Homo sapiens: one gene and its partners. The protein of the gene in region 1 interacts with the protein of each later gene in a biochemical or structural test. Each region holds a gene or a part of one and is shown in the gene's direction. Other genes may lie near its edges.

Evidence for each region.
Region 2: the proteins of WWP1 (region 1) and RNF11 form a complex in vitro, tested with the Homo sapiens proteins (one study listed by BioGRID).
Region 3: the proteins of WWP1 (region 1) and LATS1 interact in a test that uses a peptide from one of them, tested with the Homo sapiens proteins (one study listed by BioGRID).
Region 4: the proteins of WWP1 (region 1) and RTN4 form a complex in vitro, tested with the Homo sapiens proteins (one study listed by BioGRID).
Region 5: the proteins of WWP1 (region 1) and ARRDC1 form a complex in vitro, tested with the Homo sapiens proteins (one study listed by BioGRID).
Region 6: the proteins of WWP1 (region 1) and ERBB4 form a complex in vitro, tested with the Homo sapiens proteins (one study listed by BioGRID).
Region 7: the proteins of WWP1 (region 1) and DVL2 form a complex in vitro, tested with the Homo sapiens proteins (2 studies listed by BioGRID, with this or other methods).

What each region holds. Positions count from the first base shown.
Region 1 is NC_000008.11:86,466,775-86,469,003, forward strand, and holds the end of WWP1 (NEDD4-like E3 ubiquitin-protein ligase WWP1), read left to right. Parts: intron 1-19; coding exon 20-119; 3' UTR 120-1,729; downstream 1,730-2,229. Other genes in the region: RMDN1 (regulator of microtubule dynamics protein 1), read right to left, coding at 1,902-1,933. UniProt on the Homo sapiens protein: E3 ubiquitin-protein ligase which accepts ubiquitin from an E2 ubiquitin-conjugating enzyme in the form of a thioester and then directly transfers the ubiquitin to targeted substrates.
Region 2 is NC_000001.11:51,267,273-51,270,609, forward strand, and holds part of RNF11 (RING finger protein 11), read left to right. Parts: intron 1-2,683; coding exon 2,684-2,853; intron 2,854-3,337. UniProt on the Homo sapiens protein: Essential component of a ubiquitin-editing protein complex, comprising also TNFAIP3, ITCH and TAX1BP1, that ensures the transient nature of inflammatory signaling pathways. Promotes the association of TNFAIP3 to RIPK1 after TNF stimulation.
Region 3 is NC_000006.12:149,659,102-149,662,601, reverse strand, and holds part of LATS1 (serine/threonine-protein kinase LATS1), read left to right. Parts: intron 1-363; coding exon 364-873; 3' UTR 874-3,500. UniProt on the Homo sapiens protein: Negative regulator of YAP1 in the Hippo signaling pathway that plays a pivotal role in organ size control and tumor suppression by restricting proliferation and promoting apoptosis.
Region 4 is NC_000002.12:55,040,452-55,043,951, reverse strand, and holds part of RTN4 (reticulon-4), read left to right. Parts: intron 1-3,500. UniProt on the Homo sapiens protein: Required to induce the formation and stabilization of endoplasmic reticulum (ER) tubules. They regulate membrane morphogenesis in the ER by promoting tubular ER production.
Region 5 is NC_000009.12:137,608,686-137,612,185, forward strand, and holds part of ARRDC1 (arrestin domain-containing protein 1), read left to right. Parts: intron 1-3,500. UniProt on the Homo sapiens protein: Functions as an adapter recruiting ubiquitin-protein ligases to their specific substrates. Through an ubiquitination-dependent mechanism plays for instance a role in the incorporation of SLC11A2 into extracellular vesicles.
Region 6 is NC_000002.12:211,380,803-211,384,302, reverse strand, and holds part of ERBB4 (receptor tyrosine-protein kinase erbB-4 isoform JM-a/CYT-1 precursor), read left to right. Parts: intron 1-242; coding exon 243-688; 3' UTR 689-3,500. UniProt on the Homo sapiens protein: Tyrosine-protein kinase that plays an essential role as cell surface receptor for neuregulins and EGF family members and regulates development of the heart, the central nervous system and the mammary gland, gene transcription, cell proliferation, differentiation, migration and apoptosis.
Region 7 is NC_000017.11:7,228,180-7,231,517, reverse strand, and holds part of DVL2 (segment polarity protein dishevelled homolog DVL-2), read left to right. Parts: intron 1-323; exon of another isoform or gene 324-637; intron 638-720; coding exon 721-790; intron 791-1,087; coding exon 1,088-1,233; intron 1,234-1,362; coding exon 1,363-1,472; intron 1,473-1,574; coding exon 1,575-1,710; intron 1,711-1,839; coding exon 1,840-1,930; exon of another isoform or gene 1,931-1,968; intron 1,969-2,070; coding exon 2,071-2,140; intron 2,141-2,243; coding exon 2,244-2,383; intron 2,384-2,472; coding exon 2,473-2,549; intron 2,550-3,338.

The sequences.
Region 1 (2,229 bases):
TGTTTTTGTTTCTGTTCAGTTTTAATCGCTTGGATCTACCACCATATAAGAGTTATGAACAACTAAAGGAAAAACTTCTTTTTGCAATAGAAGAGACAGAGGGATTTGGACAAGAATGAATGTGGCTTCTTATTTTGGAGGAGCTCTTGCATTTAAATACCCCAGCCAAGAAAAATTGCACAGATAGTGTATATAAGCTGTTCATTCTGTACAGTGAATTTTCCGAACCTCTCAAAGTATGTTTTCCGTTCTTCCACAGAAATATGCAAAACAGTTCATCCTTTTCTACTTTATTTATTGTTCCCTTGAAATGACTGACCAGGAAAAAGATCATCCTTAAATTTTGAAGCAAGTGAGAGACTTTATTAAAAATACATATATATCTATATAAACATATATGATAGTGGCTCTAGTTTTATAGAGCTCCAAGTGTATTAAACATGACAGCCATTCATTCATAAAGATCTGGATTTGCTTTACCTTGTTAATATTATCTAGGGGAAAAAGTGCAAATTGCTCCATGTTCTTCTCTCCCTTATGTAACATCTCCTGAGGGTGTTTAGTTGCATGGCTGTTCAGAAAGGTATTAAGGGCTTAGGCCAAATCTTACTTTGAGTATGTTAAAAAAAAAAAAATGCTGCTGGCTTTTCTGAAGACAGGTGCTTGAACTTGTCAGTTTGTTTTAAATAAATACAATAGTTGAAAATTTTTCTCTGTTACATCAGTAATATTGTTAAAGTAATGGATAGAACCATAACTTACACATGAAAGTCATATACTAGATCCAATACTATTTAGTTTATTATCGAAATTGGAAGGATTCATTGAGCAGCATAGAAGTTTGTTTACATGTTACTTTGAGATGCTAGGTATTTGTGGAATTAAAAAGAATCAGGCTCTTTTGTACTTTGTTTTTAAATCTGTGATGCTTTTCAAATTTAATTCATAATAAATTGATGCAATTTCATACTTAGGAACATACAAAAGGTAATGTAAACTCTGCCACTTTTTTGTGTTCAAAATTTTGGTTTTTATGAAGCCAGATGGATTGAAGAGTTACATAAGCATTTGAATGCTCTAATATAAGGCTAATGATTTTCTGTTAGTGTTTGAATATCTTCATTCCTCTCAAATTCATAACAGTTCTATTTAACTGAATTAAATAACCATATGAAAAATCTTTTGGGTCTCCCCCTTTTTACACAGATAATTATTTTTGTCATAACACTTTTTAATTGTTTTTCATCATAGGGGCCTTTGCTGAACTACAAAAATGTGTAACAAATTAAAATCTGATGTGAATGATATTAATGCTACTTTTAGCAAACTGGGCTTCCTAATACAAAATTTTAAATTTCCATTTGTATCATGCTTTTAATATGCACTGTAAATTTCATTAACTTAAACATTTTTTAATAGCCATGGAACTGACTTCTTAAAATCTGTTGCCTATAAATATTTCACTGCTAAGTACATACAGAAAAACAGTAATTATTGTTTTGCCAAAATTTTATTTTTCTACATATTGAGAGTGTGTTCTCCATTTTATTCAGAATTCATAGTAAAGACGAAAGAAAGGCAGAGATCTGCTTGGTTGAATAGACTCCTTTTCCAAATCCTTATTATGAACACTCTGGTAATTTTCAAGCCTAAAGAATTAAAAAAAAAATTCTAATGTATGTGACAGGTTATGTGATAGAGGGAAACTGGCCTTCAAAAAGGACTGCGTATACCATAAAAGAGTTAAGTATTAGAATTACAAATGGTACCACTGCTGTATAAATTTTGCCATGACAGAAGTTATTGAATATCATTCATTGTAGGTATGATTTAGCAGATTTGACTGAAGAAGGCAGCTTTCCAGTTCGTTTTCAGGGTGCTGGTCTCCCTCAAGTAAGAAATTACGATGCACTAGGTGAGGCTACACAGAACCCTACAAGAGACAAAACCAGCTTTGTTTTGGAGAATTCATCAGGGTCTTCCACTTTTCATACCCAATTATAGATATCCAAGACCTACAGGCAGAGCTCTTGATTTATCTACCCAGTAGCAGTCAGAAAAACTGTAGAAATATGGTCCCCCACTCACCTTCTCCCCTTCTTCCCTTCCCATTCCTGTTCTGTGCTGGACTAACCGAAAGAAATTAGGAGTGCAAGACTCTCTGTGCCCAAAACACAGTTCATGAGGAAACAGACAAGAGGGAGGCTCAGAGACAGGTTTATATTGCTA
Region 2 (3,337 bases), on another chromosome or scaffold:
CAGCTGGGGACGAAACACAGTAGCTTTGCAAATATAAAGTGGGAGCACAACCTAGCACTGGCGTTGGAGGTCCTCAAAACAGTCCCCAGGTTTGGTGATTCAATAGGAGGGCTCTTAGGACTTAGTATATAATCTTACTCACATCTATGATTTGTTACAGCAAAGAATCAAAGCAAAATCAGCTAAGGGGAAAGGTGCTTTGGTCTAAAGGGAACTAAGCACAAGCTTCCAAGAGTTATCTCCTAGTGGAGTCACACAGGACATGCTTAATTCCTTCAACATATATGAAAGGTTTTCTGCCAGAGAAGCTCATTTGGAGACTCAGTGCCCCAGGTACTGATTAGGCACCCACTGCCTAGCATATGACAAAATTCCTGATTCTCAGAGGGGAAGCAGGTGTTGAACATAAACCATATAGTGTTCGCAGATAGGGAATGGTGGGAACCACCCCCAAATCCATATCTTTTTTTGTTGTTAAGATGGAGTCTCTCTCTGTTGCCCAGGCTAGAGTACAGTGGCAAGATCTTGGCTCACTGCAACCTCTGCCTCCCGGGTTAAAGCAGTTCTCTTGCCTCAGCTTACTGAGTAGCTGGGATTACAGGCGTGCACCACCACGCCCAGCTAATTTTAGTATTTTTAGTAGAGATGGTGTTTTACCATGTTGGCCAGGCTGGTCTCGAACTCCTGACCTCAGGTGATACGCCTGCCTCGGCCTTTCAAAGTTCTGGGATTACACGCATGAGCTACCATGCCCAGCCATCACATCTTTTAAAATTGTTGTTTTTATACCCCTGTCTAATCTTCTACTCACTCAGTGTCTGTTAGCCAACAATTGAATCAGGATTCCATTTTGCTGCCTAGAAAATCAGTGGCTGTCTAGTTATGAAACAATTGATAACTCAGATATCAAGCCATTTTAAAACAAGTATCATGGGAATTAAAATTTAAAATTAGGCATGTGTGGTAAGAAGGGTGAGGCCACATTCATCTTTAAAATATCAGGAGGTCTTAGTCATTTCCTTTCCTCTATGGTTTTCTGAACCATGTAAACTGAAATTAGATTGTTCAATCATTTTAAATATCTAAAAGATATAGAGAGGGTTCCTTTGTTTTAACAAAAAAATACCAAAGGAGAAAATACACTCATAACGTGAATTAAAATATAGTTTTTATTTTCTTCTTTAATGTTTATTAATGTTTCCCCGTAAAGTAGAACTTTCCTTTTCTGTTCTGCTTTCTGTGTTCTCTACACGTATGTGAACCACAAGACTGAAGAAATCTAGCCTCTGAAAAACCCATAGTTGGAGTTTATTTTCTCTAAAACAATTTAGTTATTTTTGTTTGTTAGGTTCAAGGATTTAAGAGACCCTTTATATTATCTTAGTCTTAAACCAATTTGTTCCCAGTTTGCGTGTGGATGACAGCTCATCAAAACTGGTCAACTAGGACTGAGGCTAAGATTCAGGAAGGTAATTTAGACTGGAAATGGTAATTCAAGGGTTGAAGAACTCAGAGCTGGCAGAGATCACAACAGAGTCCAAGAGTTTGTAGTATTCAAAGAGAAGCCAGAAAGCCAGGACCAAAGCCAAGGACAGTAGCACTTAGCTTAAAGTCTGCAAAGCAGAGAATCATGATGGGGAGAATCATGACGTTGGGGAGATGTTAGAATAATTTACAAATATTGGCATTTACAAAGCTCTTAGTTATCTCATGATTATATCAACTCTTTAAAGTGGGTACTGTTATCTGCTTTATTCAAAGACATTAAGAGACTTGGTCCAAGCAATCACAGTAAGTAGCCGAGCTGAGACTGAAATCTTATAATTTAATTCTTCAGACTGAAAATCTCATCTTCTGAGATAGTAGTGTTTTTCAGACTGCTCTGTTGATTCTGAGGATTCTGCAAAGGTAACCAAGGTGAGGGCTTGGGGATGGGGAGCCTCATCCCTTCTAGGCCACACTCCATCCCAGCTTCATTCCATCAGAGTTGCTCAGTTTTAAATATTATTATAGGCCAGGCACCATGGCTCAACCCTGTGGCCCCACTACTCAGGAGGCTGAGGTTGGAGGATTGCTTGAGCCCAGGGGGTTGAGTTTACAGTAAGTTGTGTTTGTGCCACTGCACTTAAGCCTGGGCAACAGAGGGAGACCCTATCTCAAAAAAAGGTGGGGGTTATACACACGATTCCTTTGAATTGTTTTGTTGTGTAAAAAATCAGTTGGATTAGGAGCAGCAGAATTCTAATTTCAGTATTGTCAATTAGTGACTGTAGGCAAGCTTGGTCCTATGAAATGGGAAAGTTAGTCTTAGATAACTTTTAGATTTATTTTTGCCATAGTCCAGTCCATTTAAAAAGTTTTAAAAATTATTTTTAGAGATGAGGTCTTGCTATGTTGTCCAGGCTGGTCTCTTATCATGTGGAAATAGTTCATTTAACATTCCATGCCAGTTCAGTGAAGTCTGTGTTTATATCCTTTAGGCAGAATGAGAATGTTTTGGTGTGTGTATGTTTTATTCTAGTAGCTGAAGTTAAGGCAGGGTGAAACACAGTCATACAGCCAAACACTAGCCCAGCTTCCTACCCCTCCCAGGGCTCCCTTTCCCTTCTATCTCTGACCAAAAAATAAGCCCTCGAAAGGTTTTTAAAAAATAATCTTTTTCCTCTATATTTTAATATTTTAGGAACAAGTTCCAGTTCCAGTCTACCACCCAACACCTAGCCAGACTCGGCTAGCAACTCAGCTGACTGAAGAGGAACAAATTAGGATAGCTCAAAGAATAGGTCTTATACAACATCTGCCTAAAGGAGTTTATGACCCTGGAAGAGATGGATCAGAAAAAAAGATCCGGGAGTAAGTTTTAATTAATTTGTACATTTCAAAGTTTTATTTTCAGATTGCTTTTGAAAAATTTGCCTTTTCTCCTGCACTTTAGAAAGTCAGACATTTAATATATTGAAACACTTCGCTTAATGCAAGAGAATGTTTAATTTTTTTTCATAGCTCTATTACTGGCTACTAGCAAGAGAATGTTATGTAGTAATTAAGAATTTTCACAGGCCGAGCACAGTGGCTTATGCCTGTAATCCCAGCACTTTGGGAGGCTGAGGTCGGGGGATCACTTGAGGCCAGGAGTTCGAGACCAACCTGGCCAACATGGTGAAACCTCATCTCTACTGAAAATACGAAAATTAGCCAGGCATGGTGGCACGCGCCTGTAATCCCAACCACTTGGGAGGCTGAGGTGGGAGAATCACTTGAAACTCTGTCTCAAAAAGTAAAATAAAGTAAAATAAGAGAAAGTTAGTGTTAATGAAGAGAGCTTTAACTTACAGCA
Region 3 (3,500 bases), on another chromosome or scaffold:
AAACATAATCCCTAGCCTTAATGGATATATTTCAGTAGGACATAAACATAAATAGGTACCACAAGCTATTAGAAATATGATAGAAATAAATATATGGTACAGGGGAGGCAGAGTAGAAGTAGTCACTTCTACCATAGGCCAAAAGGTTTACTAGGGGAGATTAAAACTGACAGTGAGTCTTATAATGTGAGTAGAAGTTGCTTGGAGAGGATGGGATAGGAGAAAAAATTATTTTCCAGCAAAATATCATGTAATTTATTTAAAATACAAAAATAGCCCAGTGAGACTTTTGGTATAAAACTTGAAGGAAATCTTTATTTTTCTAATTTATCTCTTCCCCCTAATTTTAAAAAATCTTTAAAGGTTATCAACTGGCAAACATCTCTTCACATTCCACCACAAGCTAAACTCAGTCCTGAAGCTTCTGATCTTATTATTAAACTTTGCCGAGGACCCGAAGATCGCTTAGGCAAGAATGGTGCTGATGAAATAAAAGCTCATCCATTTTTTAAAACAATTGACTTCTCCAGTGACCTGAGACAGCAGTCTGCTTCATACATTCCTAAAATCACACACCCAACAGATACATCAAATTTTGATCCTGTTGATCCTGATAAATTATGGAGTGATGATAACGAGGAAGAAAATGTAAATGACACTCTCAATGGATGGTATAAAAATGGAAAGCATCCTGAACATGCATTCTATGAATTTACCTTCCGAAGGTTTTTTGATGACAATGGCTACCCATATAATTATCCGAAGCCTATTGAATATGAATACATTAATTCACAAGGCTCAGAGCAGCAGTCGGATGAAGATGATCAAAACACAGGCTCAGAGATTAAAAATCGCGATCTAGTATATGTTTAACACACTAGTAAATAAATGTAATGAGGATTTGTAAAAGGGCCTGAAATGCGAGGTGTTTTGAGGTTCTGAGAGTAAAATTATGCAAATATGACAGAGCTATATATGTGTGCTCTGTGTACAATATTTTATTTTCCTAAATTATGGGAAATCCTTTTAAAATGTTAATTTATTCCAGCCGTTTAAATCAGTATTTAGAAAAAAATTGTTATAAGGAAAGTAAATTATGAACTGAATATTATAGTCAGTTCTTGGTACTTAAAGTACTTAAAATAAGTAGTGCTTTGTTTAAAAGGAGAAACCTGGTATCTATTTGTATATATGCTAAATAATTTTAAAATACAAGAGTTTTTGAAATTTTTTTGAAAGACAGTTTTAGTTTTATCTTGCTTTAACCAAATATGAAACATACCCCCTATTTTACAGAGCTCTTTTTTCCCCTCATAACCTTGTTTTTGGTAGAAAATAAGCTAGAGAAATTAAGCCATCGTGTTGGTGAGTGTTCCTAGGCTAATGATAATCTGTATAATTCACATCCTGAAACTAAGGAATACAGGGTTGAAAAAATATTAATATGTTTGTCAGAAGGAAAAATAATGCATTTATCTTCCCCCCCACCCCCCGCCCCATGGAATATTTAATCTATTTAATCTTCTTGCATTTATTTCTCAAGAATTACTGGCTTTAAAAGAAGCCAAAGCACTACTAGCTTTTTTTCCATATTGGTATTTTTGATGCTGCTTCCAATTTTAAAAGGGAACAAAGCTGCCATAAATCGAAATGTTCAATACTAAAAGCTAAAATATTTCTCACCATCCTAAGCAGATAATTATTTTAATTTTCATATACTTTTCCTGTATAGTAACTATTTTGATTATATCATCAATGTTACCTGTTTCCTCTTTCAGAACAGTGCTGCATATACAGATTGTTATTGGCAAAGGAAAATCTGGCTATCTGGCAATATTTTACCTAAGCGCAGATTAATTGGTGAAAAAATTAACTCTTAAGATGGCCATTAATAATTAGGAAAGTTTACAGAGTGGTCTTAGTAGAAAATTCAAGTCCTCCTAATTTATTTAAGGTTCAATAATGCGTTCAACATGCCTGTTATGTATAACGCTTAGGTTCTAAGGAAGATTAAGGTTTCATACCAAAATACATGTAGCTTATCTTTTAGGAAGGGGAAAAAGGCTCCATTTTGACCATAGTAAAATTTGTGTTGTGTTTTATTTCCTTTTCTTAAGCTCCACTGATAAGGGATTGTTTTTATCAAAAGTTACTATTTGTAGATTGGAGGCATAATTTTAGTGATTTTCATACTTTTAGCTTTCTTCGCATAAAAGCTAATTGAAACCGTATATGTAGTAAAATTAAAGGCAGAGCTGTTGCAGTTGAATTGGAGAGTTAGGGCAAAGAACACTTATTAGCCCACACTTCCCACCTTTCTACAGGTGGTCCTTTCAGAGCTCAGCCTGAAAACCCACTACTGTGTTATCGTGCGTCTTTTGGGGTTAGTGGTTCTTTTGAGAATCTGAAGGAAGCTGTGGACTCTTCCTAGAAAAAAAAACCACACATACACATACAATGTTGCATGCAGTTTCAAGGGATTTTGGACATATTGAAACCTATCACAGGCTGTAGGTTATGGACCTCTGTGCCATGAGAAAATTGATACATTAAACTAAGAACTTTGTTTTTAACTTACCAATCACTACTCAGCACATCTTATATAAGCTGATAATTTGTGATGGAAAAGGTCTGTAGCATGTGATATAAGGTGACCTTATGAATGCCTCTCTTGCTGGTACATTAAGTTGTTTTAATATATCATTTGGAGGGGACTGAAATGTTAGGCTCATTACAAGCTTGATACAGAAATATTTCTGAAGGATTTCTAATCAGAATTGTAAAACAATGTGCTATCATGAAATCGCAGTCTTCACCTCATGGTTCATGGAACATTTGGTTAGTCCCATAAAATCCTATGCAAAACAAAGTAGTTCAAGAATTTTTAGGTGGGTAGTCACATTTATAAGGTATTCCTCTTACTCTTTGGGCTTTTTCAGTCTGATTTATTTAAATTTTCATTTAGTTGTTTTACTTTTGGACTAAGGTGCAATACAGTAGAAGATAACTTTGTTACATTTATGTTGTAGGAAAACTAAGGTGCTGTCTCCTCCCCCTTCCCTTCCCACAAAATCTGTATTCCCCCTATTGCTGAAATGTAACAGACACTACAAATTTTGTATTCTTTTTTTGTTTTTTGTTTTGAGACAGGGTCTCACTCTGTCACCCAGGCTGGAGGGCAGTGGCGCTTCACAGCTCACTGCATCCTCAACCTTGGGGGCTCACGCAGTCCTCCCGCCTCAGCCTCCCAAGTAGCTGGGCATGCGCCACCAAGCCCAGCTAATTTTTGTATCTTTAGTAGAGATGGGGTTTCGCCATGTTGCCCAGGTTGGTGTGGAATTCCTGGGCTCCAGTTATATGCCCACCTCAGCCTCCCAAAGTGCTGGGATTACAGACGTGACCCACCGCGCCTGGCGCAAATATGTATTCTTTTAAAATTTCCTCTGATACTATAAGCTTTTTGCATTTATCTGAAGCAGTATACATGCCTTTGGTATCAG
Region 4 (3,500 bases), on another chromosome or scaffold:
CAGGCGTGAGCCACCACACCCAGCCTAAATATATTTTTATTTTTATTTTTATTTTATTTTATTTTTGAGGTGGAGTCTTGCTCTGTAGCCCAGGCTGGAGTGCAGTGGCGCAATCTTGGCTCACTGCAACCTCCACCTCCTAGGTTCCAGCAATTCTCCTGCCTCAGCCTCCCGAGTAGCTGGGACCACAGGCATGTGCCACCACACCTGGCTAATTTTTGTATTCTTAGTAGAGACGGGGTTTCACCATGTTGGCCAGGCTGGTCTTGAACTCCTGACCTCAGGTGACCCACCTGCCTCGGTGTCCCACAATTCTGGGATTACAGGTGTGAGCCACTGCTCCCAGCCTTATTTTTATTTTTTTAAAGATGGGGTCTTACTATGTTGGCCAGGTTGGTCTTGAACTCCTGGGCTCAAGCAGTTCTCCCACCTCGACTTCTGAAAGTGTTGAAATTACAGGTGTGAGCCACTGTGCCCCGCCATTTATTTTCATAATATACCTTCAAGCAACTTATTAGAATAACTTGATTCAAAGCCTCAATTTAATGGTTCCTTTTTAAGGTACTTTGCTAGCCCAGGATAAAAGTATAAACTGAATGGCTATTTCTTGATTCTTCCCTGGAACCCTTAAATAAATAGAAGTAAATGTTGCAGATATACTATACTTATGGTACATTCTTTGAGACTTTTTGTTCCTGTTTCTAAAGGGATCAGGTTCTTCTGAGGATGACAGCACTAGGGATGGGAACTGTAATGGTAAAACCATAGTTCTCAGTAGTGTTTGAATGAATGTGACCTTTGTGGATAGCTAGTGCAGGACATAGGTATGCAAAATGATGAGACCCAGCTTTACTGATGCTAAGATTTTCTCAGACTAATGCCATCATCATCCTTTTTAACCCCAAAGGAGGAGTTGATAATTTCATATTTAAGCTATTGATATTTATGTTTCTTGGAATGATGATCATTGATTTTTAAGTTGCTTTCATCACGTGTTTCCATAATATTCTGTTCTTACCTCTTCATAGTATATATCATTCTATATAAGGTAATGGTATGGTTACTGATTTCTTTCCTCCACCAGACAGTGTACTCCTTGAGGAAAGGTGCTGTGACCTTTTTCTTTGAGGAAAAGGACTGTATGCATTGTGTCTGCATTGCAGTGCCTTAGATGTGATAGGCACTCAGTTTGTTGAATGAGAAAGATGCTGATCTTCATATTCTGTATAGTTCTAGAATTACTATAATATCTTCTCTCAATAAAAATCCCAAATCTTACGAAAGCATTTATTTATTTATGTATACAAGGTAACAATTCCAAACAGTACTACAAGAATACACAGAAAAGTAACTCTTTCTACCTGTTACCCAGATTTCCACAAATTGTCTTCTGTAGATCCACCCTCTGTTAGTAGTTTCTTGAGTATCTGTTTAGAGATAATCTGTGGATAAATATTTATTTATACATGTATATCCTTTTCACTTTATTTTCCACAAAAATAGATGCAGAGGACTCTGGGGATGTACCATATTTTATTTAATCAGTCCCTTATTGATGGTTATTTAGGTTGATACTTAGTTTTTTCTCTTACAAATACTATTTCTGTGAACACTCTTGTATACACTTCTTTGGGAATACATGCCATTATATATGTTGTAGGATAAATCTGTGCAAGTAGAATTACTGCTTCAAAGGATATTTGCATTTAAAATGTTGGTAGCTAATGCCAAAGTGTCATTCAAAGAATGGTTCCAACCTTTATTCCCACCAACCTGTTAAGGTACCTTTTCCCTTATATCTTTACCAACACAGTATATTAGTGAACTAATACATTGTTTAGCAAATTGTTCTTTTAAATTTGAGTCATTTTTCATAGGCTTAGGTGTCAAATTTTTTCTGATCACAGCTTTTGCCTATTCTTTTGGGTTTTTGGTCTCATGTATGTAGATTCACTTAATCTGCATTGTAAGGAAACTAGCCTTTTGTCATATGTCTTGAAAACTTTTTATTGATTTGTTATTTGTATTTTGACCATATGGTATGTTTTTCTGTTTAGAAATTTTTATGTAGTCAGATTTATCATTTTCTTTTATGACTTTGAGTCATAAAAGTGAAAAAAGTCATTGAGTTTTATGTAATCCTTAGAAAATCCTTCTTGAGGATCATAAAAATTTTCCCCCATGTTTACTCCTAGTAAGTACTTTTATACTTTTTATGATTTCATTTTAACATTTAATTATTTGATTTATTTGCAGTTTGTTTTGTTCTAGAGAGTGAAGTAGTGAAATAATTTTATATTTCAAGATTATTTCCCATTTGTTCCAATACCTTTTATTTTGAATTATCCTTCTTAACCACTTTGAAGTACCATTTTTGTCATATTCTTGTAGTATGGGTGAAATATTTCCTCTGCTTTTCCATTTATCTGTCAGTTCACACAGAAGTATCAGACTGTTGTGCTATAATTTTTAAATACTAGCTAAACGGCTTTTCCATAAATATTTTTCTTGGCTATCTTATGTGTGTATAATTTTCTACTTCATCTTAAAATTTTTTTTATCTTGTCCCCTCTCCCTCTGTTGGAGTTTTAGTAGGTTGCATTACATTTATGGATTAATTTTGGGGAGAATTGAAATACATTCGGTGTTGATATTGTGTATTTTTCCATAAACACGTGGTTTTTATTAACATGTATTTAAAAAAAATTTAGCATATAATTAGGTGAACTAGAGACTTTTAAAAATAAATATTCTAGCCTCCTTGTAACATACTGAATTATACAGGTATTTGGCTCTCTCTTTTCAATTGATAATTGACTGAGAAAGAAAGCTAAGTCTTCCTGCTTTTTCATTTCCAAAAAAAAAAAAAAATTGTGTTGAGAAAGAAAGAAATATTCTCTGTACTCTTGTATTAGGAGCTATAGCTGCCAAATACTGGATTTTTTTTTTTTAAAGCAGTCTCTTTACATAGGTGGCCCTCTACTTTTCAAAAATAATTATTTCTTTAATAGCTTGTTTTTCTCATTGATGGAATTGTTACCACAGATACAGAAAGTTTATAAAGTTTTGTTGTTCAAGAGTTTGGAGTTGCTGCTTATATTGGTGGTCTCTTGGAAGTTCAATATTAAGAAAAAAATTAATATATTCCTTTTTTTTTTTAACTAGGCCTAGGGCTGAGTAAGAGGACAAGAAAGATGAATAGAGGTTGTACTTATGAGAGGTATAGGTAGCAGATGAAGGAAAAAATACAGGCCCTTAGTTGTAAAGAATTTTCTGCTCTTAAAACCAGAGGAGTTTTGTGATTGGCCTTACAGGACATATTTACAGATCTGTGAACTGCTTTTGTGGAAAGAGAGAAGCTTACTTAAGGATTCCAGGTCTGCCTACGTGTTCTTTCTCCCCAACTTTGTAGGTTGATTTATAAACTCGCCTAAATGGAAGGTGCCATTATTGAGTTCATTTATCTCAGTGCCCTGACAACCGTAGATGGAGGTGACCTA
Region 5 (3,500 bases), on another chromosome or scaffold:
CCCTGGGAAATTCACCCAGCCTGACCTGAAGCAGTTGCTGAGAGGCAGAGGAGCAGCTCCAGGTGTTTTGGCAGGGAAGCAGCTGGCAGCTGTGCGGGAGCCCCTTGCCTCCCGTGTTCTTACTGAGGAGTGTGTGGGGCAGCTCGGGACAGGTTTCACTTTGGACAGTGGTTGGAGGCTGCTTACTCTGGCAGAGTCATCTCAAAGAGCCTTGGTGTATGTGCAAAACGGGGCCATCTGCATGGGCGTTGGGAAGATCACAGAACCTGGACCCTTAGGATGACCCAAGGGTCAGTTGCATACTGTTTGTTTTTGTGGAGTCAATGTCCCATGACGGTTTTCGCGATGCTTTGCTAGTAGGAGCAGTGGCGTGTGAGGCTCCCGGTTAAATACCATGAGATTCTAAGCGGAATTCTGGGTCTCCTGGTATGCACAGGTAAAATTACAGTAGACCTGTCCCACTCTTTGCCAGAACCTCGTACTTGTCTGCAGTTTGACTGGAATAAGGGGTGTTTGTGTTCCACCTCCCTCCAACGTGTGTTGAGACATTTATTTATTTATTTATTTATTTACGTTGCTCTTGTTACCCAGGCTGGAGTGCAGTGGTGCAATCTCAGCTGCTCACCGCAACCTCTGCCTCCCTGGTTCAAGTGATTCTTCTGCCTCAGACTCCCGAGTAGCTGGGACTACAGGCACGCGCCACCAGGCCTGGCTAATTTTGTATTTTTAGTAGAGACGGGGTTTCTCCGTGTTGGTCAGGCGGGCCTGGAACTCCGAACCTCAGGTGATCCGCCCGCCTCAGCCTCTTAAAGTGCTGGGATTACAGGCGTGAGCCACTGTGCCTGGCCCCAAGACATTGATTTTATTTGAGATGAGGTCTCACTTTGTCACCCAGACTGGAGTGCAGTGGTACAATCTTGGCTCACTGCAACTCCTTCCTCCGGGGCTCCCACCACAGCCTCCTGAGTGACTGGGACCAGGGGCACGCGCCACCACACCCAGCTAATCTTTGGTAGTTTTGGTAGAGATGGGGTTTCACCGTGTTACCTAGGCTGCTGTCACACTTCTGGCCTCAAGCAATCCGCTCGCCTTGGCCCCCCAAAGTGTTGGGATTACAGGCGTGAGCCACTGCGCCCAGCTGTGTCGAGACATTTAATATTTGTCAATCTGATGGATTGAAATGGTAGGTCATTTGGGCTTTCCCTGCAAGCTCCACCTTCCGGGTTCACGCCATTCTCCTGCCTCAGCCTCCTGAGTAGCTGGGACTACAGGCGCCCGCCACCACACCCGGCTAATTTTTTGTATTTTTAGTAGAGACGGGGGTTTCACCGTGTCAGCCAGGATGATCTCGATCTCCTGACCTCGTGATCTGCCCGCCTCGGCCTCCCACAGTGCTGGGATTACAGGCTGAGCCACTGCGCCCGGCCGGGTTTTCTGTAATTTCTAGTGAGGTTGGACATCTGTTCCAGTTACCTACTGCTACGTAAAAGTCGCGGTCACCTCAAGTCAGACACCATTCTTAAAACAGTTAACACAACCATTTTATTATATCTCACAGCGTTGTGGGTTAGGAATCTGGACAGTGAGGGCAGGGTTAATCTTCAGTTCTGTGCCACCAGCTGGGATCACTTGAGGGTGCTTGGCTGGCATACGGGTTAGTCTGGGGACCACTGCCCCCTTTCCGGCATCCTCTGTGGGTTCCAGCATTTTTCTTTTTTTTTTCTTTTTGAGATGAAGTCTCGCTCTGTCACCCAGGCTAAAGTGCATTTGTGCGATCTCAGCTCACTGCAACCTCTGCCTCCTGGGTTTAAGTGATCCTCATGCCTCAGCCTCCCAAGTAGCTGGGATTACAGGCGTGTGCCACCATGCCTGGCTAATTTTTGTATTTTTTTTTTGAGATGGAGTTTCACTCTTGTTGCTCAGGCTGGAGTGCAGTGGCGCGATCTCGGCTCACTGCAACCTCCGCCTCCCAGGTTCAAGCGATTCTCCTGCCTCAGCCTCCCTGGTAGCTGGGATTACAGGCATGTGCCACCATGCCCAGCTAATTTCGTATTTCTAGTAGAGATGGGGTTTCTCCATGTCGGTCAGGCTGGTCTGGAACTCCTGACCTCAGGTGATCTGCCTGCCTTGGCCTCCCGAAGTGCTGGGATTACAGGCATGAGCCACCGTGCCCGGCCTTTTTTGTATTTTTAGTAGAGATGGGGTTTCACCATGTCAGCCAGGCTGGTCTTGAACTCCTGACCTCAAGTGATCCACCCGCCTTGGCCTCCCACAGTGCTGGGATTACAGGTGTGAGCCACTGCACCCAGCTGGGTCCCAGCATTTGCGGGATTCAAGGTGGGGATGTGCAGTCTGTCAGGAGTGTTAAAAGCACGGCAGCATTTCCAGTCCCCAGGCCTCCTCTCCTTGCTTCAGCCACGCCCACCCTCCTCTGTGCCTGCTCATGCCCATGTGCTTCTGTTGGGCTGTCTGCTGGTCCACAGGAGGATTACTGGTGTTCCGGATTTTCAGCATGAACACAGTATGGGGTCTGGCCCGAGGAGGGCCTGGCTAACAGAGCATGGATTCAAAATCAGAGCAGAGCTGGGTACCGTGGCTCATGCCTGTAATCCCAACACTTTGGGAGGCTGAGGCAGGTGGATTGCTTGAGCTTAGGAGTTTGAGACCAGCCTGGACAGCATGGCAAAACCCTGTCTCTATAAGAAAAACAAAAAACAAAAAACAAAACCCAGGTGTGGTGGCACGTGCCTGTAGTCCTAGCTACTTGCGGGGCTGAGATGGGTGGATCGCTTGAACACAGGAGGTTAAGGCTGCAGTGAGCCGAGATCGTGCCACTGCACACTAGCCTGGGCGGCGGGAGTGAGACCGTGTCTCAAAAACAACAACAACAACAACAACAACAAAAAAACAAAAAATGGACCGAGGTTGGGGTGGCAAGGCTGGGCTGGAATGGAGGCTGAGGACAGGCCCTGGCAGCGCCCGGGGGTAGAGGGCGTGCAGCAGGAAGCAAGGGCCACCCTCAGGGATGGGGGACTGGGCCTGGCAGCTGCCGAGGGGTAGGCAGGATGCATGTGGAGAGCCACGTGGGGCTGCGGCTGAGCCAAGGATTGTGAGAGGAATCCTGCTGCTCTGGGTGGCAGGCAGAAGGCCTGGGCCACAGGTGGGGCCTGCTGGGGAGACCACAGGTGAGGCAGGTATGGCTGACCCTGGGCGCTCGGCACACCGGTACTCCTCCTGCCTGGCTGCTCCCTCAGCAGGTGTCAGAGTCTGAGTCACCTTTTCCTCACGTGACCCCCACCAGGACCAGGCAGGGAGGTGGCCATCTTTGGCCCTGACTCAGCCCTGCAGGGAGAAGAGGGGCTGGAGGTGCAGGTGGCCTGCCACTGTCTCCCCCAACCCCTGCCCACCTGGGTCTTGTGCTGTGTGTACTTCTGCTGCGTCTGTCCTCCCTTGTGACCAGCTTCTGCTGGACCTGATTGTCCAGCCATGATCTTCTGATC
Region 6 (3,500 bases), on another chromosome or scaffold:
AGGAGATAGAAATTCTGATTCTGGCCTCGTTGGCTTCTTGTTTTATTATAAACATTTTTGACCCACTTACTCTTTTTTTCATAAGACAATGGTGATCCACAAATACTTGTTGTGAGAAATCATGAAAACAAATCTGTGGGTTTTTTTGTTCTAGACAAAGAAGCTAACCATTATGTATAACCTTGGTCTGATTAATATTTTCCAGAAACTAGAGGTTAGCTGATATTTTTTTATTCCTTTAGAATACCTGAATCCAGTGGAGGAGAACCCTTTTGTTTCTCGGAGAAAAAATGGAGACCTTCAAGCATTGGATAATCCCGAATATCACAATGCATCCAATGGTCCACCCAAGGCCGAGGATGAGTATGTGAATGAGCCACTGTACCTCAACACCTTTGCCAACACCTTGGGAAAAGCTGAGTACCTGAAGAACAACATACTGTCAATGCCAGAGAAGGCCAAGAAAGCGTTTGACAACCCTGACTACTGGAACCACAGCCTGCCACCTCGGAGCACCCTTCAGCACCCAGACTACCTGCAGGAGTACAGCACAAAATATTTTTATAAACAGAATGGGCGGATCCGGCCTATTGTGGCAGAGAATCCTGAATACCTCTCTGAGTTCTCCCTGAAGCCAGGCACTGTGCTGCCGCCTCCACCTTACAGACACCGGAATACTGTGGTGTAAGCTCAGTTGTGGTTTTTTAGGTGGAGAGACACACCTGCTCCAATTTCCCCACCCCCCTCTCTTTCTCTGGTGGTCTTCCTTCTACCCCAAGGCCAGTAGTTTTGACACTTCCCAGTGGAAGATACAGAGATGCAATGATAGTTATGTGCTTACCTAACTTGAACATTAGAGGGAAAGACTGAAAGAGAAAGATAGGAGGAACCACAATGTTTCTTCATTTCTCTGCATGGGTTGGTCAGGAGAATGAAACAGCTAGAGAAGGACCAGAAAATGTAAGGCAATGCTGCCTACTATCAAACTAGCTGTCACTTTTTTTCTTTTTCTTTTTCTTTCTTTGTTTCTTTCTTCCTCTTCTTTTTTTTTTTTTTTTTTAAAGCAGATGGTTGAAACACCCATGCTATCTGTTCCTATCTGCAGGAACTGATGTGTGCATATTTAGCATCCCTGGAAATCATAATAAAGTTTCCATTAGAACAAAAGAATAACATTTTCTATAACATATGATGGTGTCTGAAATTGAGAATCCAGTTTCTTTCCCCAGCAGTTTCTGTCCTAGCAAGTAAGAATGGCCAACTCAACTTTCATAATTTAAAAATCTCCATTAAAGTTATAACTAGTAATTATGTTTTCAACACTTTTTGGTTTTTTTCATTTTGTTTTGCTCTGACCGATTCCTTTATATTTGCTCCCCTATTTTTGGCTTTAATTTCTAATTGCAAAGATGTTTACATCAAAGCTTCTTCACAGAATTTAAGCAAGAAATATTTTAATATAGTGAAATGGCCACTACTTTAAGTATACAATCTTTAAAATAAGAAAGGGAGGCTAATATTTTTCATGCTATCAAATTATCTTCACCCTCATCCTTTACATTTTTCAACATTTTTTTTTCTCCATAAATGACACTACTTGATAGGCCGTTGGTTGTCTGAAGAGTAGAAGGGAAACTAAGAGACAGTTCTCTGTGGTTCAGGAAAACTACTGATACTTTCAGGGGTGGCCCAATGAGGGAATCCATTGAACTGGAAGAAACACACTGGATTGGGTATGTCTACCTGGCAGATACTCAGAAATGTAGTTTGCACTTAAGCTGTAATTTTATTTGTTCTTTTTCTGAACTCCATTTTGGATTTTGAATCAAGCAATATGGAAGCAACCAGCAAATTAACTAATTTAAGTACATTTTTAAAAAAAGAGCTAAGATAAAGACTGTGGAAATGCCAAACCAAGCAAATTAGGAACCTTGCAACGGTATCCAGGGACTATGATGAGAGGCCAGCACATTATCTTCATATGTCACCTTTGCTACGCAAGGAAATTTGTTCAGTTCGTATACTTCGTAAGAAGGAATGCGAGTAAGGATTGGCTTGAATTCCATGGAATTTCTAGTATGAGACTATTTATATGAAGTAGAAGGTAACTCTTTGCACATAAATTGGTATAATAAAAAGAAAAACACAAACATTCAAAGCTTAGGGATAGGTCCTTGGGTCAAAAGTTGTAAATAAATGTGAAACATCTTCTCATGCAATTATTTTATTATCCAACACACTAATCTTTTGATACTTTATATAATTCCCTTTCTTCATATACTGCATCCAGTACTAGAACCATCATTATTATGTATCATTTTGAAAGAATACCTGATGAGATGAAGGATGAGAACAAATGACAGAGATGAGTCTCCAAGTAAAGGGGGCCTCACATCAATAATTAGGAAACTTAGATATAAGTCGCCCTTTTCTGAAAATTCTACCCCAAGTCATTTAGATTTTTAAAAAATATTTCTAATGTTAAAATATTGGGACCAAATTAGAATCAATAGTATAAGATTAATTAATTAGAGTAAAAATATCTATTAAGGCAGAGAAAGTTTAGAGAAAAAAATCCAAAGAAATTTGTGTTTCTTCCTATTCTGAACAAGTAAATCCATCCATCCATCCATCCAAACCTCCTTTATCTAACTGTGTCTACTAAAAGCACCATGTTTTGTGGGGAACACTCAGATAAATGGAATATCATCCTCAACTTCAAAATTCTATGATCTAGGAGATTTAATTAAAATGACATTTTAATTTTTCTATGCGTTCCAACAATCAGATTGCATAGTCTCTTTTGTGAATAGCTGTCATATAATCAGTTGTACTGTAAGATATCTCCTTTAAACTCATTTGGGATATAAGTTAAACATCCTTCAAATTGTTGATGTTGACAAACAGGATAATTTCAATAATATTATTCAAACATAAACTGGTCTAGGAGAATATTGCATCACTGACTAATTAGCCTATCTAGAGTCTAACTTCACCATTAAACCAAAAGCAGATGGTGGTCCTTGGCCAAGAATATTGGAGACATTGGAGTTGGTTTTTTTCTAAGCTATAAGAAGTGAGGCGAGCTGAAAAAGTATGGTAGAGCAGGAGAAGGGTTTGTGAGATTCCTTCTAGTGAAGTTCACCCTCAAACTTTTCAGGGGTAAAGACACAGAGTGATTCAGGGGCCACAATCTAATAGCTCAGGGCTCTCCTATCCATTCAGAGAAGTCTCTAGGAAAAGGGATCTCATATCAGTACTTATGAAAAATTGAATATAAGCCTCCCTTTCTAAATAAATCTGCATCGAGTCATCACAGCCCTCTTTTTGGATACTATACCTTGATTTTTTTTTTCTGATTTACAATATGCATATGGTTTCTACTGGGCTATAGAAAGCAGAATCACTCATTTTGGAGAAGGAAAAAATGAATAGTTAAAACAAACTTTTAACTGTTAAGGTAACAGAAATGTATTTAGTGAATGTCTCTTTCCTCCTAA
Region 7 (3,338 bases), on another chromosome or scaffold:
GAAAGTATAAGAGTAGAGGCTTTGATGAGGACCAAAGCCTTTTTTGGAAGGTTTTTTTTTTTTTTTTTTTTGAGCCGCCCAGGCTGGAATGCAGTGGCGCGATCTCGACTTACTGCAACCACTGTCTCCCGGGTTCAAGCGACTCTCCCATCTCAGCCTCCTGAGTAGCTGGGATTATAGACACCCACCATCATGCCCGGCTAATTTTTGTATTTTAGTAGAGATGGGGTTTCACCATGCTGGCCAGGCTGGTCTTGAACTCCTGACCTCAGGTGATCCGCCCGCCTCAGCCTCCCAAAGTGCTGGGATTACAGGTGTGAGCCACCGTGCCTGACCTTTTTGGAAGGTTTGTAAGGAACAGGGGTGGGGTTGAGAGGAGGCCACCAGCCAGTCTCATTAGATAGGTATCTCAGGCAGCCGCATCAGCGTGCGGGATTGCTTTTGAAACTGGACTAAGAGGTTTGAGTCAGACTCAAGGAAGTCTTTGGAGCAGCACTGTGCCCCTGAGGGTGCGTTAGGGAGAGGAGAAATAAGGAAAGGGGATTGAGTTTGGAGATTTCTTAGGTGTCGGAGTGAGTTCTTTCAATGTAAGAGAAGACCTGAACAGGGCAGGAGAAAGTCAACATCCTGGAGCCAGGTGAAGATTGGGAGAAAGTTTGATGGGGGTCGGGGTGGGGATGGTTGGTCCAGCTCACTGACCTCTACCTTGTCGCTTGGCAGGGTGGTGAAGGAAGAAATTTCAGATGACAACGCCCGCCTCCCCTGCTTCAACGGAAGGGTGGTATCCTGGGTAAGAGGTTCTGACACCGAGGACCAGGCCCCCTCAGCATTGCCAAGCTCCCTCAAGCCTCAGTCTGTTTCTGTATCCTCCCCAGGCCGCGCGTTAGCAGCCCTGGCTCTTTACCTCCTGTCTGTTTGGAGAGCCGGCGAGAGGCCCTCAGCCTTCTCCTTCTGGAGTCTCTAATACTTGCTAGGTTTTTTTGCTCTTCTCCAGCTCTCTGAGACCCTTTCTCATTCTTTCACTTACTGCCACCTGTCACACCCTGACTCCCAAGTGAGCCACTGTTTATCATTTGCACCCTTCTAGCTGGTGTCCTCAGATAATCCCCAACCCGAGATGGCCCCTCCAGTCCATGAGCCTCGGGCAGAACTGGCGCCTCCAGCCCCACCTTTACCTCCTTTGCCACCCGAGAGGACCAGCGGCATTGGGGACTCAAGGCCTCCATCCTTCCAGTGAGTCCTTCAGATTCTTGACTGCAGGGGAGGGAGGTGAGGAGGGAACCCAGGCCTTTGGTAGGGGACGCCTAGGATCCGGAGCCCTGTTCTCCTGATGTGGGTTGGAAACCATCTCTGCCTGTCCAGCCCTAATGTGTCCAGCAGCCATGAGAATCTGGAGCCTGAGACAGAAACCGAGTCAGTAGTGTCACTGAGGCGGGAGCGGCCTCGCAGGAGAGACAGCAGTGAGCATGGCGGTGAGGGGCAGGCCTGGGGGCCGGGAAGGGCTGGGCCAGACCCCAGCCTTGGTGGGGTGAGCAGGGGGAAGCTTGGTTCTTGAGCTTCCTGTCCATATGTAGCTGGGGGCCACAGGACTGGTGGCCCCTCAAGGCTGGAGCGCCACCTGGCCGGATACGAGAGCTCCTCTACCCTCATGACCAGCGAGCTGGAGAGTACCAGCCTGGGGGACTCGGACGAGGAGGACACCATGAGCAGGTGTGGCTCCGCACAGCTCTCCCCAGCGCACCCAGCCCCGTCTCGTCTTCCAGTCAATCCTCTTGTTCTTTCTCTTGGCCCCATGACCACTTTGGCCTACGTTTGCTCTCCTTCCCAACCTCCTGGTAGGTTCAGCAGCTCCACGGAGCAGAGCAGTGCCTCCCGCCTCCTTAAGCGCCACCGGCGGCGAAGGAAGCAGAGGCCACCCCGCCTGGAGAGGGTGAGGGGTTCCTACAGGAAGGCTGGTGCTGGGAGAAGGTGGGGCATGGGCTTTGGTTTGGGCGGTGCCAGGACACCGGCAGCACCCCAGGGTTGACCCTGGGTTATTGAAGGGCACTCTGGCTCCTTTTCCCACCACAGACGTCATCCTTCAGCAGCGTCACAGATTCCACAATGTCTCTCAATATCATCACAGTCACGCTAAACATGGGTATGGGGAGAGCCTGTGGCTAGGGCGTGGGGAGGGCCTGGTCTCTAGGGTTCCGGGCGTCCTGTGGCAGGGGCTCCTCTTTTCACATGGCCTCTCTCCACAGAGAAGTACAACTTCCTGGGTATCTCCATTGTTGGCCAGAGCAATGAGCGGGGAGACGGAGGCATCTACATTGGCTCCATCATGAAGGGTGGGGCTGTGGCGGCCGACGGGCGCATTGAGCCAGGGGACATGCTTTTGCAGGTGTGCTGGGGTAGGGCCACTGAGCTGCCCTGCACGGGGGCCCTCAGCCTCTCCCACCGTGTCTCTGACCCACTTGCCGTCGCTTCCAGGTGAATGACATGAACTTTGAGAACATGAGCAACGATGACGCTGTGCGGGTGCTGAGGGACATTGTGCACAAGCCTGGGTGAGTTGCCAAGCAGGTTGCCGGTCCTCAGTCCTCTTTTTTTTTCTCTTTCATGTTTTGTTTTGGAATTTTAATAAGTACTAAGACAGCCGGGCGTGGTGGCTCGAGCCTGTAAACCCAGCACTTTGGGAGGCCCAGATGGGTGGATCACCTGAGGTGAGGAGTTCGAGACCAGCCTGACCAATGTGGTGAAACCGTGTCTCTACTAAAAATAGAAAAATTAAGTGGGCATGGTGGCACATGCCTGTAGTCCCAGCTAGTGAGGTGGCTGAGACAGGAGAATCACTTGAACCCTGGGGGGTGGAGGTTGCAGTGAAACGAGATCACGCCACTGCACTCCAGCCTGGGCGACAGAGCAAGACTCCGTCTCAAAAAAAAAAAAAAGTGCTAAGACATAACGTTCAAAGTACATGAAACAAATGCATGACATAGCAAATAATACTAGAGTAAATATCCATGTCACTGCCATCTAGATCATCAAATAGGAGATTGCTGATACCCTAGAACTTCCTCCTCAGATGTCCCTTCCTGCTCCCAAATGCCTCACTGCCCCAGGGGTAGTCACTCTCCTGACTTCTTTGGCCATCACCATAACAAAGAAAAGCTTTGCCTCACTGGATAGTTACCACCCTTGCACGTATCCTTGAACACTGCAGTTTCGTTTTACCTGTTTTTGGACTTTCTGTGAATGGAACTGTACAGCGTGTACTCTCTTGTCTCACTTGGCAGTATGTTTTTAAGAGTTTTCCATGTTGATGAGTCATCCACATTGTGGTGCCTTCCACCCTC